Regions from separate parts of the Homo sapiens genome. Here region 1 is linked to region 2. Evidence: fine-mapped expression QTL. A gene starts in region 2. The other region holds a variant in brackets. All regions are shown on one strand. Distances are between the middles of the regions. Region 1 overlaps TARBP1 (tRNA guanosine 2 -O-methyltransferase TARBP1). Region 2 holds the start of TARBP1 (tRNA guanosine 2 -O-methyltransferase TARBP1).

The links.
Region 1: its variant is fine-mapped to the expression of TARBP1 in whole blood (TOPMed, PIP above 0.99).

What each region holds. Positions count from the first base shown.
Region 1 is chr1:234,406,743-234,412,120 of GRCh38, reverse strand. It overlaps TARBP1 (tRNA guanosine 2 -O-methyltransferase TARBP1), which reads left to right. Exons shown (of 30, transcript NM_005646.4): 23 at 1,590-1,676. Among named protein-coding and RNA genes, the nearest start is that of COA6-AS1, 36 kb to the right of the region's middle. The variant A/G (reference allele first, on the strand shown) is at 2,691.
Region 2 is chr1:234,476,980-234,482,357 of GRCh38, reverse strand. TARBP1 (tRNA guanosine 2 -O-methyltransferase TARBP1) reads left to right here and starts at 3,179. Exons shown (of 30, transcript NM_005646.4): 1 at 3,179-4,185. The coding sequence starts at 3,255. RefSeq lists silencers at 3,063-3,252, 3,283-4,082.

The DNA.
Region 1 (5,378 bases), 70 kb after region 2:
AAGTTACCTCCCCAAGTATTTAGATCCCCTTATTTTAGGTTTTCATAGCACATAAATAGTACTGCTTACAGTTAGGATTTTAATCTGATTTGATTTTTATCTTCTCCAGTAGATTTTTAAGTTACAGGAACTTGTTTCTATAGTAACTGTCATGTAGAAGACATTCAGTAACTGTTAATTAAATAAAGGAATTAAATAATAATAAATGATTTGCCTCTTGGATTGGTTTCCAAACTGGTCTTCCTGCTTATATGCTCTTTTCTTTCCAATCTGTCTGGCATTTATCAGTTTATTATCACTAAAATAATGTATTATTCCAAAACCACTATGATTATGAAATAATAATAGTTTCAGATTCCAGTTGAACAGTCTTTTTCAACTGGAATCAGAGGTTTCCAGATTCCAGTTGAACAGTCTTCTTAAAAAATTTTCCCTAAGATAGCTGATTAAGTCTTCTATAGGTTTTTCGCTATAGCTTTTTAAAGCCTCTACAGTATGATTCCATTTAACTTTTGAGCCTTATCTCCATCACTCTCTGCCAAACTGGCTTTGTCTCCTCTTGCTGCCTTTCCCTTAAGTTTGCCTCTGTGTCTTTGTTCTTGTTCACTTATCTGTTCTCTAACCTTCCTGCTCCTTCTCCAGGCCAGTCCTTCCCATCCTGAAGGCCTCACCTCTCCTGAAGTGAGCATGCCCTTGGCTCTGCCACAGATAATCAACCCTTGGTATCCATGGGGGATTGATTCCAGGCCCCCTACGGATGCCAAAACCTGAGGATGCTCAAGTCTTTTGTTTAGAATGGCATAGTAGTTGCACATAACTGATGTGTATCCTCCCATATACTTTAATAATCTTAGATTACTTATAATGTCTAGTACAATGTACATGCTATGTAAATCGCTGTTATACAGTTTTAAACTTTGTATTACTTTTTAATTGCATTATGTTTTAAAAATTTTTTGTTAAATATTTTTCATCCACGGTTGGTTGAACTCATAGATGCAGAACTCGTGCATACAGAGGGCACACTGTACTTTATTTTATGTTTTTTTTTGAGACAGGGTCTTGCTCTGTTGCCCATGCTGGAGTGCAGTGGCACGATCTCAGCTAACTGCAAACTCTGCCCTGGGTTCAGGCAATTCTTCTACCTCAGCCTCCCCAGTAGCTGGGACTACAGGTGTGCGCTACCATGCCCAGCGAATTTTTGTATTTTTTGGTAGACATGGTTTCACCATGTTGGCCAAGCTGATCTCAAACCCCTGGCCTGAAATGATCCACCCGCCTCAGCCTCCCAAAGTGTTGGGATTATAGGCGTGAGCCACTGTGCCCCGCTGTACTTAGAGTTGAGTTATTCAGTACTTTATGTGACCTGCTGATTTTTGTGTGCACTGGCATTTGGCTCTAGGAAATATTTCCTTTGCTTTCAGTCCTGTGCCTGTTGCCGCAGCCCCCTTCCCACCCAGACCCCGGGCTGTTCCAGGGAAGAGGCTGCCTCCTGTCCTGGGCCCTCATAGAGTCCAGCACGGCGCTTTCACGTGCATGTTTCACAGTAAGCTTTGAATCAATATTTGTTTATCTGATTATTTTTTCAGGGTGAAGAAAATCTTAAAACAAGCATTTGTACGTTTTTAGCAGTTTTATCACATTTAGACATTATTACTCAAAATATTCCAGAAAAGGTAAGTTTGTTTGTAAGAATTTAAACTTGACTGTAAAAAAAGAATTGTATGTATTTGTACCAATTTTTTATATGTAGAGCATTCCTGTGAATGTTTGCAATTTTTCCCTTTCCTTTCCACTGCCCTGCTAATGTGCACATGTATTAGACACAAATACCCAGTAAATGGGAATTACCCATTTACATGCATACACACTGAGGTGTGCTTGAGTACATACCAAATTTATAGACAAACTACTGGGTAAGTTTTTGTTGATACTTGTATAAAATTAATAATTATTTATAATTCTTAGGATTAGGATTACTTAGGATTCTTTAAACAGGACTTCCCTTACCTTCTTTGACTGAATGGTAGTTATTTAACAAATGCTCGTGCAAAGAAACTTATGGCCAGACTATTAAAAGCTGTTGGGTAATTGAAGGTGATATAAAATGACTGTCATCATTTGGAGTGTGCAGTACAGTTACTTCATGTTCCTCAGGTTTAGAACAATTTCCCCTGTAAGTTCTCACACAGATAGGCAGAAATCATAACTAATTTTGGTTAATCACTATGGCAGCCGTTGAAGAATTTAAGAGAACCTGCCAGTAAGATTTGGAATAAGATTCTATATTATTGCATCCACAGAAAAGAATGTACTGATATACTATAAACTCTAGGAGAAAACTTAATTGAAATAGTGTTATTAAGTGTTGAAAGTACCATAAAAATATAAGGGAAAATAAGCTTTCCTAGAATTTTTCAGTGTTCTAGTTTTTAAACAGTGATGTTTTTTATTAACCTATTTCATCCATTCAAAGACAGGCCTTTCTCCACACCACATTTTCCTCTAAAATCATGATAACACTTTTAAATTGATGGTGTCTTCCAGTGTGTATCAGCCAGATGGCAGTGTGTTACAGTTCCAGGAAAACTCGTTCACATCTTCCGTAAGATCAAGAAGGCTCTGGCATCAGATAAGATCAAATGTTGTCTTTCTGTTTTAAATATGTGCCGCAAAGAGATTTGCTTACA[A/G]TCTATTGAGAAAGCTAAAACAGAGCAGACATTGTCCTGTTGCGGGGTAGATGAATAGCCTAAGAATAGTTTAGACAAATTCTGAAAACGAATTTACCTTAGAAGATGTTCATGTTAGATCTGGTAAAAGTAACATGTTATTTTTCTGTCAAGCCCTTTTTGTACTTGCCGTTTATTACATATTTTAGATTTATTTTTTATTTTCGAAACATCCAAAAAGGAATGCTAATTAGTGAAATGGAAGAATTTCCATTTCAACACCTTAGGAAAAAAAAAACTGACTTGACATACCTAAGAAAAGGCCAAGTTGATTTACTTTGTCAGTCTCTTCATTTGTGATACGTAAAGTCCGTTGTTACCTAGATAAATGTAGGTTTGATTTCTTGGAAGCAATCACTTAAGACTTTCCATTTTCTTCAAAGCATCTTACTTAACCTGCATGTGGGATCTGTACTGAGCAATTAGAGATTCAAAACAACTGTCACACACGACAGAGGTGGTAACCGCCCAACAGGTTCACCTCTTCCGCCGCCTACACAGAGCCGATTTATCAAGACAGGAATTGCAATAGAGGAAGAGTACACAGAGCTGCTTGTGCAGGAGACTGGAGTCTTATTAGTACTCAAATCGATCTCCCTGAGCATTCGGGGATCAGAGTTTTTAAGGATAATTTGGTGGGAGGGGGAAGGCCAGTGAGTCAAGGGTGTTGATTGGTTGGGTCGGAGATGAAATCATAAGGAATTGAGGTGTCCTTTTGTGCTAAGTCAGTTCCAGGGTGGGGGCCACGAGATCAGATGAGCCAGTTAATCGATCTGGGTGGTGCCAGCTGATCCGTCGAGTGCAGGTCTGCAAAATATCTCGAGCACCGACATAGGAGCAGTTTAGGGAGGGTCAGAATCTTGTAGCTTCCAGCTACATGACTCCTGAACCATAATTTCTAATCTTGAGGCTAATTTGTTAGTCCTACAAAGGAAATCTAGTCCCCAGACAAGAAGGGGGTTTGTCTTGGGAAAGGGCTGTTATCATCTTTGTTTTAAACTATAAACTAAACTAAGTTTCTCCCAAAGTTAGTTGAGCCTACACCCAGGAATGAACAAGGACAGCTTGGAGGTTAGAAGCAAGATGGAGTTGGTTAGGTCAGATCTCTTTCCCCACCTCAGTTACAATTTTGCAAAGGCGGTTTCAGAATCAGAGCACGAAGTGTTCCTATAAAAGGAAAAAAAAAAAAAACCTTTCTTAATTATGCTCATAGTTGTGTATTGTCCTGTCAGCTTGCTCATTGTGTAAAATGAGCGGACATGAGAATTCACGAGCAGAGCTTTTTACACTGATATGTATGAAAGCATCATTTACGTCCTGAAAGCCCCAGCCGAGCGATCACTGGCAGTGCCAACATTTTTGAGTGTGGGCTCCATAGGAAGCACTGTTTTCCCTATTGAGAATTATAGTGGGTTTTTTTCATTTACGAGTAATGTATACCTAGCTCCAAGATCTTGGTTGCTAACACCATTCTCCAATAAAACGAACCAGGGATCGCTGGAGAAATAGCTGATTCTAAAACTAGGGCAGAAAGTATACAAGATGAGCCTGGAGCATCTTGTAGAGTCAGAGAGCAAGGCAGAACTTTATACATACAGTGATGTGAGATGGGCATGCAGAGGGAAGATGTTCCCAGTGGCTGAAGCTGAAACAGTGTGAGCAACAAAATAAAGCAGTGTTGGATCACAACCCAAAGAATAAAATAAATATCCTCGAGCCCACACCGATATAAATAAATGATTGAATCAATAAATGAGTCCAGGCACTGTGGCTCATGCCTGTAATCCTGCACTTTGGGAGGCCAAGGCGGGTGGATCACTTGAGGTCAGGAGTTCGAGACCAGCCTGGCCAACATGGTGAAACCCCGTCTCTACTAAAAATACAAAAATTAGCCAGGCATGGTGGTACATGCCTATAATCCCAGCTACTCAGGAGGTGAGGCAGGAGAATCACTTGAACCCGGGAGGCAGAAATTGCAATGAGCCAAGATTGCAGGACTGCACTCCAGCCTAGGCGACAGAGTGAGACTCCATCTCAAAAAAAAAAAAAAGGATGGACAAGACAAATCTCTTGTAAAAAAAATTACAAGTAATTTTTATAGAAGCTCTGCCCTGAGGGAGGGGGAGCGTGACTTCTCACTCCTTCAGTGTGGGCTGCACAAGTGACTTCCTTCCATATGGGATCGTTATAACAAAAGACTGTAACAAGGGCTATGGGAGTTATAAGACAGGAATTGTGGACAAAAACCAGTGTATATCATAACATCACACCTTGTAATGTTGGCAGTACAGTCACTGACCTTTGATAAATGTTGATGACATGTTGAGTAAAGGAATGAGAGAAAGAGGATTGTTTATCTCTGTTTTTATCCTTCTCAGAGAAACTTAGAGTAACAAGTGTGTTATCAGCCATGCTGATGCCTTTGGTAAACTATTGTGTGAATATGGTTGTTTTGAATTGGTCAGTAGAAACTGGGCTGCCAGGCGCAGCCGGTAAGCATTTCCATGTGAGCCTTAGGGGAGAAGTGCATTTGGTAGGAGCATCAAAATAGCTTCTGATATTTCATTAAAAGTTTGGGTCCGTCTGGTTCCTTCATTAGTATATGTCACTTCCTTTGACCTTCAGTGTCTGTTGAACCATGTGATTTTA
Region 2 (5,378 bases):
CTGGAGATACAGACTTTTTCATCATTAGCATGTAAATGGTAATCAGATCTATAGTGTTAATGAAGTTATTCAGAGAAAATTTACAGAGTGAGGAGAAGAGAGACCTGAAGATAAAACCCTGGAAATATCACTATGGACAGGTCAGGAGGAAAAATAAGATGCTGAAAGAAAGGGAGAAGAAACAGCTGAGGAAGCAGAGAAAAGAAAGAACAGGACAAAGTCATCGATGAAAACCAGAGTGAGATAGTGTTTCAAGAAATAGGAAATACTCCACAGAGTCCATTCAGGTAAGAACGAAAAAGGGCAGCTCTGGCAATTAGGAATCGCTGCCCACATTGGTGAATCAGAAAAGTGGTGTTGCGGGAAATATTCCGGGAGAGAAGACAGTGCAAACATGTTGTGGGTAAGAAGGAGAGTTCCACATGCCTGACCTGGGGCAGAGAAGGGGGAGTCAGGCTGTGAGGCCAGCTGGCTTTTCCCCAATCCCAATAAGCCTTCAATGCTGTGCTCTGCAGTTAGGCTTTACTCTGAAGGCAACAGAGAATAAAACACATAGGCCAACTTGTTTTTTTGTTTTGTTTTGTTTTGTTTTGTTTTTTGGTATAAGTCATTTTTCAAGATTGAGGTAAACTTTCTTTTTTTTTTTTTTGAGACCAAGTCTCACTCTGTCTCCAGGCTGGAGTGCAGTGGTGTGATCTTGGCTCACTGCAACCTCTGCCTCCTGGGTTCAAGCAATTCTCCTGCCTCAGCCTCCCGAGTAGCTGGGATTACAGGCGTGCACCACCATGCCCAGCTAATTTTTTTGTATTTCAGTAGAGATGGGGTTTCACCATGTTGGCCAGGATGGTCTCAATCTCCTGACCTCATGATCCACCGGCCTCGGCCTCCCAAAGTGCTGGGATTACAGGTGTGAGCCACTGCGCCCGGCTGATTGAGGTAAACTTTCTGCAGAGCGAAATGCATAGATCTTAAGGGTTCAGTTCAAGGAGTCTTGACAAATGTGTAACAACACCCTGATCAACATAAAATATTTTCATCACCCCAGAAAGTTCCCTTGTGCCCAATTCTAGTCAAATCTCTACTCCCTATATGCAACTACTGTTCTCATTTCTATCCTTCAGATTACTTTTGTCTCTTCTTGGATTTCATATAAATGAAATCACGAGGATGTAAACGTTGTGACTGGCTTCCTTTGTTTAACATATTGTTTCTGAGACTTATCCATGTAAAGCGGATTAGCAATTCATTGTCTTATTGCTGGGAGCATTATTATATAGATAGATCACAATTTTTTATTCATTCTTCAATTTGATGCACATGTAGGTTGTTACCTAACACCTACTAGGTTGTTATAAGCTTTTGGCTATAACGAATAATGTTGTCAAAAACATTCTTCTGCAAGCTTTTTTTTTTGAAACATGTTTTCATTTATTTTAGGTAATTACCTGGGGGTGAAATCGCTGAATCATAAAGCAGCTATATTATAACTTTACGAGAAACAGTTTCTAAAGTGACTGTACCGTTTTCATGCCCACCAGTAATGTATGAGAATTCCAGTTGCTCCACACCCTTGGTCTTTGCCGTTTAGTGTTTTCGAGCTTTTACATGTTAGCCATTCTCATCAGTATGAAGTGGTACCTCATTGTGGGTTTAATTTGCATTTCTCTGATGACTAATGATGTTGAACACTTTTCCAAGTGCTTATCATTTGTGTATCTTCGTTTGTTAAGTGCTCAAGACATTTACCCATTTATATTTGTTAGATATATGTTGACAGAAACAATAGTTTTCTGCACATTTTATGTTGAAGGTAATTGATATTTACTGACATGTTAAAAGGGCTTAAAATAGAAACATTTATGCATTTTGTCAATGAAAAACGGAATGACTGAAATATGAAAAAAGTCTTGCCTGTGTAATGTCAGATAACCTTAAAGTCAGATAACTTTATATAAAAATAACTGTAAATTTAAATAACTAATTTTTGTCTTATCCATTATGTTATTATATGTCAAGCTCTTTGAAGTTGGGACCCTGTTTTCTCTATTGACTAAGAGGCAGATCTTTGTGTTTAGTAGCGAAGAAAACCCTATGTCACTGATCTAGTTTGTCTCAAATTGAGCCAGGAACCAAATCCACACCATGCATGCCGAGGTGAGGTTTTCTGTTTCTCTATTTAGCAATGGATGCTGTCAGAAATACAGAAAAGACAGACACAGGGACTATTTTTGAGTTTGCACATGGGAGCACATGCATTGTGCAGGAGGCTCTGCATCCTGGAGTCATCTTGGGCACTTGGCTGTGAGGGCTGGCGTGGGCATCTTGGTTTTAGCTGAATCCTAGCACATTGCTATAGGTACCTCTAAGGCAGGAGAATAGGGCCTGGAGGCAGGGAATCCAAAAACTCCCTAGAACCAAATCAGATAGAAACACTTCAGCTATGACAGGAAATATCCTCTTCATTTACATAGGGAGTACACCAAGTAAATAACTTTGTAACTTCATTTTATCCTCTTCAGTTACATAGTGTGTACACCAAGTAACCAATTGAAACCTCTATAGGTATTTAAACCCCAGAAAATTCTGTAACCAGCCCCCCTTGAGCGGCTTGCTTGGGTCTGCCCCCACCCTGTGGAGTGTACTTTTGCAATAAATCTCTGCTTTTGTGGCTTCATTCTGTCTTTGCTTTGTTTGTGCGCTTTGTCCAATTCTTGGACCTGGACACCCTCCACCGGTAACACTTCTCACTCCTGGCCTTACGTCTAAATCATTCTTGTGTTTTCATGACTTATTTTTAATGCAGATGTCCAGAACCAATTTCAGACCTACTGTGTCAGTCTCTTTGTGGATGGTGCCCATCATGCAACGTTTGGAAAATAATCTAAAGTGATTCTGCTGTGCACCTTCTGTGAACTGGTTTATGCTCACAGGCACGCCTGATTTAGGGTCCTGGGCAGACCAACCTCCAATCAGGAATCGATGAAGCTGGTGTAGATACTACATTAACTTTTAACGAAGGCCTCGTTTCTCCTAAAAATAAGAGACCAGGTGGGTTCTATCTAGGCAGGGTTGGTGGCAGGAACCCAAGGGAAGCTGAGCTGCACCAAGCCGGGCTGGGATCCCCCTCTCTGCGGCCGCGCGCCCGGCTCCGTCGGCGCACGCGCACGTAGGGGCCGGCCGGTCCTGTGCGCACGCATCGCACACGCCGGCGCCTTCCTTTGGGAGCCCGGGCCGGTGGCGCGGGCGCTCGGCAAATGGAGTGGGTGCTCGCGGAAGCGCTGCTCTCGCAGAGCCGGGACCCCCGGGCCCTGCTTGGGGCGCTGTGCCAAGGGGAGGCATCCGCGGAGCGCGTGGAGACGCTGCGCTTCCTTCTGCAGCGGCTCGAGGACGAGGAGGCGCGCGGCAGCGGGGGCGCAGGCGCGCTCCCGGAGGCGGCGCGCGAGGTGGCTGCAGGGTACCTCGTGCCACTGCTGCGGAGCCTGCGCGGACGCCCCGCGGGCGGCCCGGACCCCAGTCTGCAGCCTCGCCACCGCCGGCGCGTGCTGAGGGCGGCGGGCGCGGCCCTGCGCTCGTGCGTCCGCCTGGCCGGGCGTCCGCAGCTGGCGGCCGCGCTGGCTGAGGAGGCGCTGCGCGATCTGCTCGCCGGGTGGCGCGCGCCTGGCGCCGAGGCTGCCGTGGAAGTGCTAGCAGCCGTCGGGCCATGTTTGCGGCCCCGCGAGGACGGGCCGCTACTGGAGCGCGTGGCGGGGACCGCCGTCGCCCTGGCGCTGGGCGGGGGCGGGGACGGGGATGAGGCCGGGCCTGCCGAGGACGCGGCGGCGCTGGTGGCCGGGCGACTGCTGCCAGTGCTGGTCCAATGTGGCGGGGCGGCGCTGCGGGCCGTGTGGGGCGGGCTGGCCGCGCCTGGGGCGTCCCTGGGGTCCGGCCGCGTAGAGGAGAAGCTGCTGGTCCTGAGCGCCCTGGCCGAGAAGCTGTTGCCCGAGCCCGGCGGCGACCGCGCCCGCGGCGCGCGCGAGGCGGGCCCGGACGCCCGGCGCTGCTGGCGCTTCTGGAGGACGGTGCAGGCGGGGCTGGGCCAGGCGGACGCCCTGACGCGCAAGCGAGCGCGCTACCTGCTGCAGAGGGCGGTGGAGGTGTCGGCGGAGCTGGGGGCCGACTGCACCTGCGGGCCCCAGGAAGGAAACGGTACCTGCCTCTTTGCCCCCCAGCCTAGTGCTACCTACTTGGCTGCCCCAGAGGGGAGTCTTCCTGCTTCTAAAAACTAGCTTATCGGGGTCGTCACTCCGATCCATGCAGAATTTGGTTATTCCGCGTTGCTCCCCTAAAGCCTGAAAACCTTTGGAACCCCTTCTCGAGGGTGTTCTTTGAAGTCACAAATCACTGCGGTTGGGAACGTTCTAACCCAGAGCCGGTGGAATACAGCACCCCTGGAATAGTTTAGGAAGATAATGGAGCCCGTGCAAGATTTTACAGACCCAAATCTGCACTATATCATGGTAGATTCAACCCAATAGAAACGGTTGATATCTATCAAGTTGAAAGAAAAATTATTTGTTATTTATCTGTACTGACCAGTGAATTAGTGAATTGAGTGTTGAGTGTTAGAATTAAGCGTCATAGAGGCCATCACACTCTTCTGAAATTTCCCCTGGTAATTAGGAACAGGATTTACTAATATTTGTTAAACATGTTTCTTAAGTCGACCTTTTGAGTGTATTTTTGCCATTGATTTAATAGAATGAATCAGATTTTATTTTTTAACTGTTTGAGCTTTGCTCCCTACTATGTGCAAGAGTAATGAAACAGCAAGGCCTCCCTTCAAGTTGTTACGTTACTGTTGATTGGTTTGACTTCACTCATGTTAAATTTGGGTTTAAACTGTCAAGTACAAAGTAGATTGACTCAAAATTGTCTCAATAGAATATTTCTACTTTTTCAACGGTAGCTGACCATTTATTACAGGTAAAGGATTTTTGTTTGGCTGAAGTTATGAGGTTATATTTTCAAGTAATTTTAAAACATTAGAGAGTAAATATTTGAACAGTCCACAGATAGGTGTGATCATCCCTGAGAGTTTTCACTGGAAAACATTTTTTAAATCATCAAAAATTAAAACATTCATTTATTTACATGAGTCTGTTATTTTGCAGTTTTGTTTGTTTGTTTGTTTGTTTTATGGAGTTTCGGTCTTGTTGCCCAGGCTGGAATGCAATGGCACAATCTCCGCTCACCGCAACCTGCACTTCCCGGGTTCAAGCGGTTCTCCTGCCTCAGCCTCCAGAGTAGCTGGGATTACAGGCATGCGCCACCATGCCCCACTAATTTTGTATTTTTAATAGAGACGGGGTTTCACCGTGTTGGTCAGGCTGGCCTCAAAC